2 separate regions of the Homo sapiens genome follow, and region 1 is linked to region 2. Evidence: fine-mapped expression QTL. A gene starts in region 2. The other region holds a variant in brackets. All regions are shown on one strand. Distances are between the middles of the regions.

Region 1 (2,913 bases), 100 kb before region 2:
GGTAAGTTTAAAACCAGAGTGCAAATGATTTTGTCACAACATTTTATTTTTGACAAGGGGAATAATTAGGAAAATAGAAAGTTGTTTGAAAGGTAAATCATTAAAGAAAAAAGAAAACAGAGTTTGAAAATGTTAAAATCAAAATTTCCCAGATTCACAGTTTTGTTTAGGTTGACTTCATCGTTGTGAGCGCCATTGAAAGACACAGGTGTGGCTCACTCGAAAGTTTTCAGAAAGAGTAAACAGATTTTAACACCTGCCACTGATAGAGTAGGGAGGGGCCTAGGGATTGGTAAAAAGGATATTGACGGTGAAACACCCATATGAAAAGAAACTTCACAAACGTAATTTAAGTCTTTCATGATTGTCTATGACAGAGTGGTGGGGGAGGGGGAAGTGTTCTCAGAAACAAGGCTTTCCTACAGTAGGCAGAGGCATGAGAAGATTCAGGCACATCACTTCCTGCCAGGGATACTGTCAAGCAAACCCCAACAAAAGCAAGAAAATGATCATATTCCTTTTTTTGTAGTATTGCCTTCTCCAAGAGTCTATTTCAGCAATCCACTCTAGCCACCAGGTTGGAGCAAAAGAAATGAATACTTTATTCAGCTGACTCTGCACAGAAAATTAGCTCACGATATTTAACCAACGTAAGATACCCTCTTAAAGAAATTCAGCAGACAGTAACACTATAAAAAGATTTGCCAAAAAAAAAAAAAACACCAAGAGTTAATAACCTGAGTGGTATTTTCATTTTATTATGAAGAACAGAAAAGCTAGAAAAAAAGAAATAAAAACAATAGTCAAGAAACCATAAAGAAATACAATCATAAACTCCTGATCCTTTGATGGTAGGTAAGACAGAAGAGAAGGGACCCTTTCCCTGAGGGCCAATCTTGCAGCAGACCTGAATTACGAGGTGAGTTCTCCACCCTCTGCCTGGGAGCTGATGAGAGGGGTGTGATACTGTTTATAAGGCACTGGCTAGTATTATAAACTTCCCTCACTTCTATAATCTAGTCAATGTCTACATCTATTTCATTTATTGATACTAAGACATTCTTTAGAAGTTTCTACTTTAATTTTTTTCCTGCACAGTACACCTTAATTCTTAACTTTATAATTTTCTATTCTTCCTAATCACAAAAAAGTGTTCAGATAAGAAAAGCATTTTGAGAACAATTTCCTGTTAAGTTATTCAGGATGGTGTTTGAGCAACAAAGCTATTATAGAAATCAGGTTTTAAAGCATTTGAAATCAGCTGCCCTTGGCAGCCCATCTTTCCCAAGGAGCCCCACGGTGCATACACCTAACTGCGACCATTCAGTTGCCCTTGTCCTCTCCCTAAAATAAATCCCAATTGTACTCCCACCTCCTTCCAGCTTCCTTCTGCCCCCTCGTGGCAGAGACCAAAGTTGCCCTCTAACTTTGAATGTTCTCTAGGGCCCAGCACCACTTTTAAAAAGAGCAGTTTCTGGCTTTTCAAGGGTCCTCTCTGTCCCTGGGATTTTTAGGTGTCCCATGGGGCATTGCAAATTTGCTGAGTCAAAGTTTGTCCAGCCAGATTTGCACAGCACGTGGTGGTGGCGGTAG[C/T]TTACTTTGAGCTAATGCTTCAGTCTGCTTCACCAGGCAAAAGATGACTAATCTGGCCTATGAGAGAGGAATGAAGCTGGGCATTGTATAGTGTGATTTTGTGATGCAGGAAAGTCAGTTTGATGTGTGTTAGCCATAGTGAGACTACCCTAGGATGGGGCGGTGCCCACTTTACTCAAATCAGATCCAGGCAGGGGAGTCAGACCTAGCAAATTACACCATAGAAAATTATGCCTCCGAATGAGAAACTGCAATCTCAAGAGTGGGTAATTAGGGTTCCTAATTGCACAACATTATTGAAAGTTTCTCCCACCTCCTTCAGTGAAATAGCATGCCTCCCATAGATCCAACCCTAAAGGTATACTGAAAGAGATTTGGCTAGCTCTAAAAGAAAATCAAGTTGTATTCAAAGAAACTCAATAACAGCTACAAATGAAGCCACAGTTCTACTCTCTCTTCTACGTTGCACTCGGGCTCCCTAGAGGCAAGCTCAGTTACCCCATGCAATGATGCTAACCCAAAGGCAGGACTGGGGAAAAGGAAGAACCCAAGATACTATTTGGCGGGACACTACAGGCCAAAAGAGGAGCTGACCTTGACCTGGAGCTCTCAAAGTTGGCTGTCCATTGGAAACATCTGGGGAGTGTCTAAGAATACCAAGAGCAGTGTGCCGTTGACCTGGCTCTCAGGCGACGAAGTAGGAGTGGGGGCTGATTTGTGATTTGTCTTATTTGTCAATTGCTATAATACAAATATCACATTGTCGCCAATTTTTTTTTTTTTTTTTTGAGCTGGAGTCTCGCTCTGTCACCAGGCTGGAGTGCAATGGTGCAATCTCTGCTCACTGCAAACTCTGCCTTCTGGTTTCAAGAAATTCTCCTGCCTCAGCCTCCAGAATAGCTGGGATTACAGGCACCCGCCACCACACCAGGCTGATTTTTTATTTTTAGTAGAGACAGGGTTTCACCATGTTGGCCAGGCTGGTCTCGAACTCCTGACCTCGTGATCTGCCCACCTCAGCCCCCCAGAGTGCTGGGATTACAGGCGTGAGCCACCACACCGCGCCCGGTCACACCGCGCCCGGTCACACCGTGGCCAATTTTAAGCTACCAGAAGGATGTCACTGAATACAGAGTCGGAAAGAGAATTGCAACCAGAATGAGCCAGCTCCTGCACATCACTGAAAAGACTGGGCTTAAGGAGTGAGGCCTGAGCATGGGGATATTTAAAACCTCCCCCAGGTGATTCCACTGTGCAGCCAACTTTGAGAACCACTGACCTCTCTGTGTAGCTTTCTTCCAGGCTGCTGCTGCTGGCGCC
Region 2 (2,913 bases):
TTCTGCAGTGTTTACATTTTATTACCTGGCTAATGGGGACCATGCTTCCTTTTGTGGGGAAGTGACGTCCAAAGGATTACACAAAAGAAAGGGCACCAAGTTGCTGATATAGTCCCCCGGAAACACAAATAAACAGGATTGGGTTGGAAGCCCTGGGCCACTTCAAAGAAAAAAATCAAGTCAATGGTAATAGTAAGAAATGAAAACAGGCAGGGTAGCTTGCTGTCTGTGTTTAAAACTATTAAACCCGGTAGGTAAAGCCCATTTGGCTTTAAGGTTTTATTAGGCTCTCACAGACCCCATCTCCACCCCCACACACATTGCTAATCACAGTAGACCCCAGCTGTGATTCCCATCCACCCCCAGGAAAGGAGAGGGGGCTTCCCACTGTGAAAGAAAATGCCTTCTCAGACAAGAACTATGCTCCAGTCCTGACTTTCAGCAAGGCAAGCAGGGAGCTTCCTCCATGCTGGGAAAATGGCATACAGTACTTCACCTGCTAGGTACATTAAATTTGTCAACTCTGCTTCACGTCGCGAGTGTAGGGAATGTGTTTGCTTTTTAGATTTCAAATCGGATTAAAATAATTAAGTTTTCTAAACAACAATGCCATGCTTAAACCAAAGGACACGCCCTAGAACAAGAGCTAACAAGAACTAGCCTGACCGGTAAAGTAGACTGAAATATCTATTGAAAACGTTAACTGCTAAAACTGCCTGAAAGGGCTTTTTTAAATGAGAAAGTTTTTTCAGCTATATCAAGTTGAACGAATCCACTGATATTAGGGAAGGCACGTTATTTCAATATTTATATTTTAATCATAAGAAGAAACGAGAAGGAAGAGAAATGGGAAGAAATTTCAGGTCTCCAAGAAACTTTGTTCATTATATTTACTCATCTAAACTTGCAATGCTTGAAATAATCTTTCGTACGTAACCGACAAAACCCAGGAAAAAAACTATACAGTTTGAACTACGGCCTTTTTTTTTTTTCTGTTTCTGAGCTTGGTGTTGGCCACCCAAAGCTACTGCTGCTGCATTTGGTTCAGGTCGGATGCATGAGCCCGAGCTCGTCCTAAACAGGCATTCTGAAAAGCACTGGCTCCCCCGACCCTGTGAGGGCCCATCACGCGCGGCGGCTTTTGCAGGCCGCGGCCCCGAGGGCTTCCTGGAGGCGGCGACGGCGGCGGCGGCGGGCACTCACCGTACTCCATGAGGCTCTGACAGCCCTCCTCGTAGGACCCGCTGCCGCCGCCCTCTTGGGAGCATTTCCACCACAGCGAGGACGTCTGGCCGTGGTCGCTAGACTGCAACCAGCCGCGGCCGGCCAGCGCGATGATGTCGAAGGCGATGGCGCTGAGTAGGAGCAGGGGCAGGATCCAGCGGCAGCGCTCGCAGGCCAGGCCGCAGCGGATCATGTTGACGGGCGGCGCGGGGCCGAGCGGAGCGGAGCGGAGCGGGTCGGAGGAGCGCGCGGGACGGGCGACAGCAGAGAGTGGCCTGCGAGCGCGGGCGCCGCCACAAAAGCGAAGAGGCCGCGGGGAGGCGGCTCCCGAGGACGCCGCTCCGGGCGGCCCCACCTAGATTCCGGTGACTCAGAGCGCGCCCGCCCCGACCTGCCCTGCCGGGCCGGGGCGGGCGGGGCCGCTGGTAAACAGGCTGGGTTCTGGTGACACCGGGCGGCGGCGGAAGGCGGCCCGAGGGTCCCGCGCGTCCCACAACCCTCCAGTCCCGCTCTCCTGGCCTCTCCAGGCGCGTGTTTTGTCTTCCTGGCGCACCAACATATACACTTGTTTATCTGCACAGCGCCAGCCTAATATCTGACCCCTGATGTCGCATCGTGGGGCGGTGGTCAGCAGTGCCATATCTGAGTTTTCAGCAGTGTGAGATGGGTGTTCTAATTGCACCTGTGGATAAAGGCTGCACTCCTTTGGACGCGTGCACCCAAACCCAGAAGCCCGTCCCTGACCCCTGCTGACACAGGTGATCCCTTCCTCCTAGGCTCCGCCTTTGCACCTTGGACCGTGGCTCCCCGGGTACTCTTATCTCTTTGCATGCTGTTCTTTCCTGCTGGGTTGCCAGATTTTGGAAAGCGGAGGCGATGCTGAATTTATCTGTGTATCCTTAGTGTCCGGCACCGTGTTTGGATCTCAAGGGGAGCTCAGTGAATTTGATGAATGAACATGTAATTTAACAAATGCTCGCTTCCTTTCGGAAAGGCTTCATCTGGCTTCCCCAGATAATTTCATGTCGCCTCTGCTGCAGTCCACTTCCTATCACGAATCTCTACCTATTTAAACTGCACTCTCTCTACTCTTCATTTACTATTTTGAGGTTTTTCCAAATAAAAATCATACGTCAGCATGCAACCTGCATTTAGGATCCCCCCTTCGGTGTCCTGGGCTAGCTCCCGTCGCAGTTCTGACTCCTAAGATGTGACAGGAAGGGTGGGGTGGCAGCCAGGTGTGCCGCTGAGGACAAAGGAGTTCTCAGTGTCAGGCACCTCGGTGGCCTTGGGAAAATCACTGAAACATCGTATGGGGGTCATGTCTTAACCCTGTACCTCCAAAGATTTCTTCTGAATCCCCTATTTTTTCTGTTAATTTAATATAAAAGTGGGAACTACTTAAAAATATTTTAAATTGTATTCCAATTTGATATTCTCAATAGAAACAGAATACTCTTTTGACTTATGCCATTTTCTGGCAATTCTTGAGGACGAATAAAAGCATGGAGAAAGTATCTGAAAATACATGAAATAATTTCCCTAGCCTTCATTTTACATAATTCAAGTTTTACATAAACCACGTCATATATTTTTATTACAGGAAAATATTTTCACTTTCAAAGAACACAAGAGGGTGTTCTGCCAAAAGTTAATTTTGTATCGTGGAAGCTGTGTGAAGAAAATGGT

Evidence for each region. PIP is the estimated chance that this variant, and not a neighbour inherited with it, causes the effect.
Region 1: its variant is fine-mapped to the expression of PERP in thyroid (GTEx, PIP above 0.99).

The regions. Positions count from the first base shown.
Region 1 is chr6:138,005,720-138,008,632 of GRCh38, forward strand. No RefSeq gene overlaps it. Among named protein-coding and RNA genes, the nearest start is that of SIMALR, 61 kb to the left of the region's middle. The variant C/T (reference allele first, on the strand shown) is at 1,594.
Region 2 is chr6:138,105,924-138,108,836 of GRCh38, forward strand. PERP (p53 apoptosis effector related to PMP22) reads right to left here and starts at 1,496. Exons shown (of 3, transcript NM_022121.5): 1 at 1,204-1,496. The coding sequence starts at 1,417. RefSeq lists a silencer at 1,625-1,674.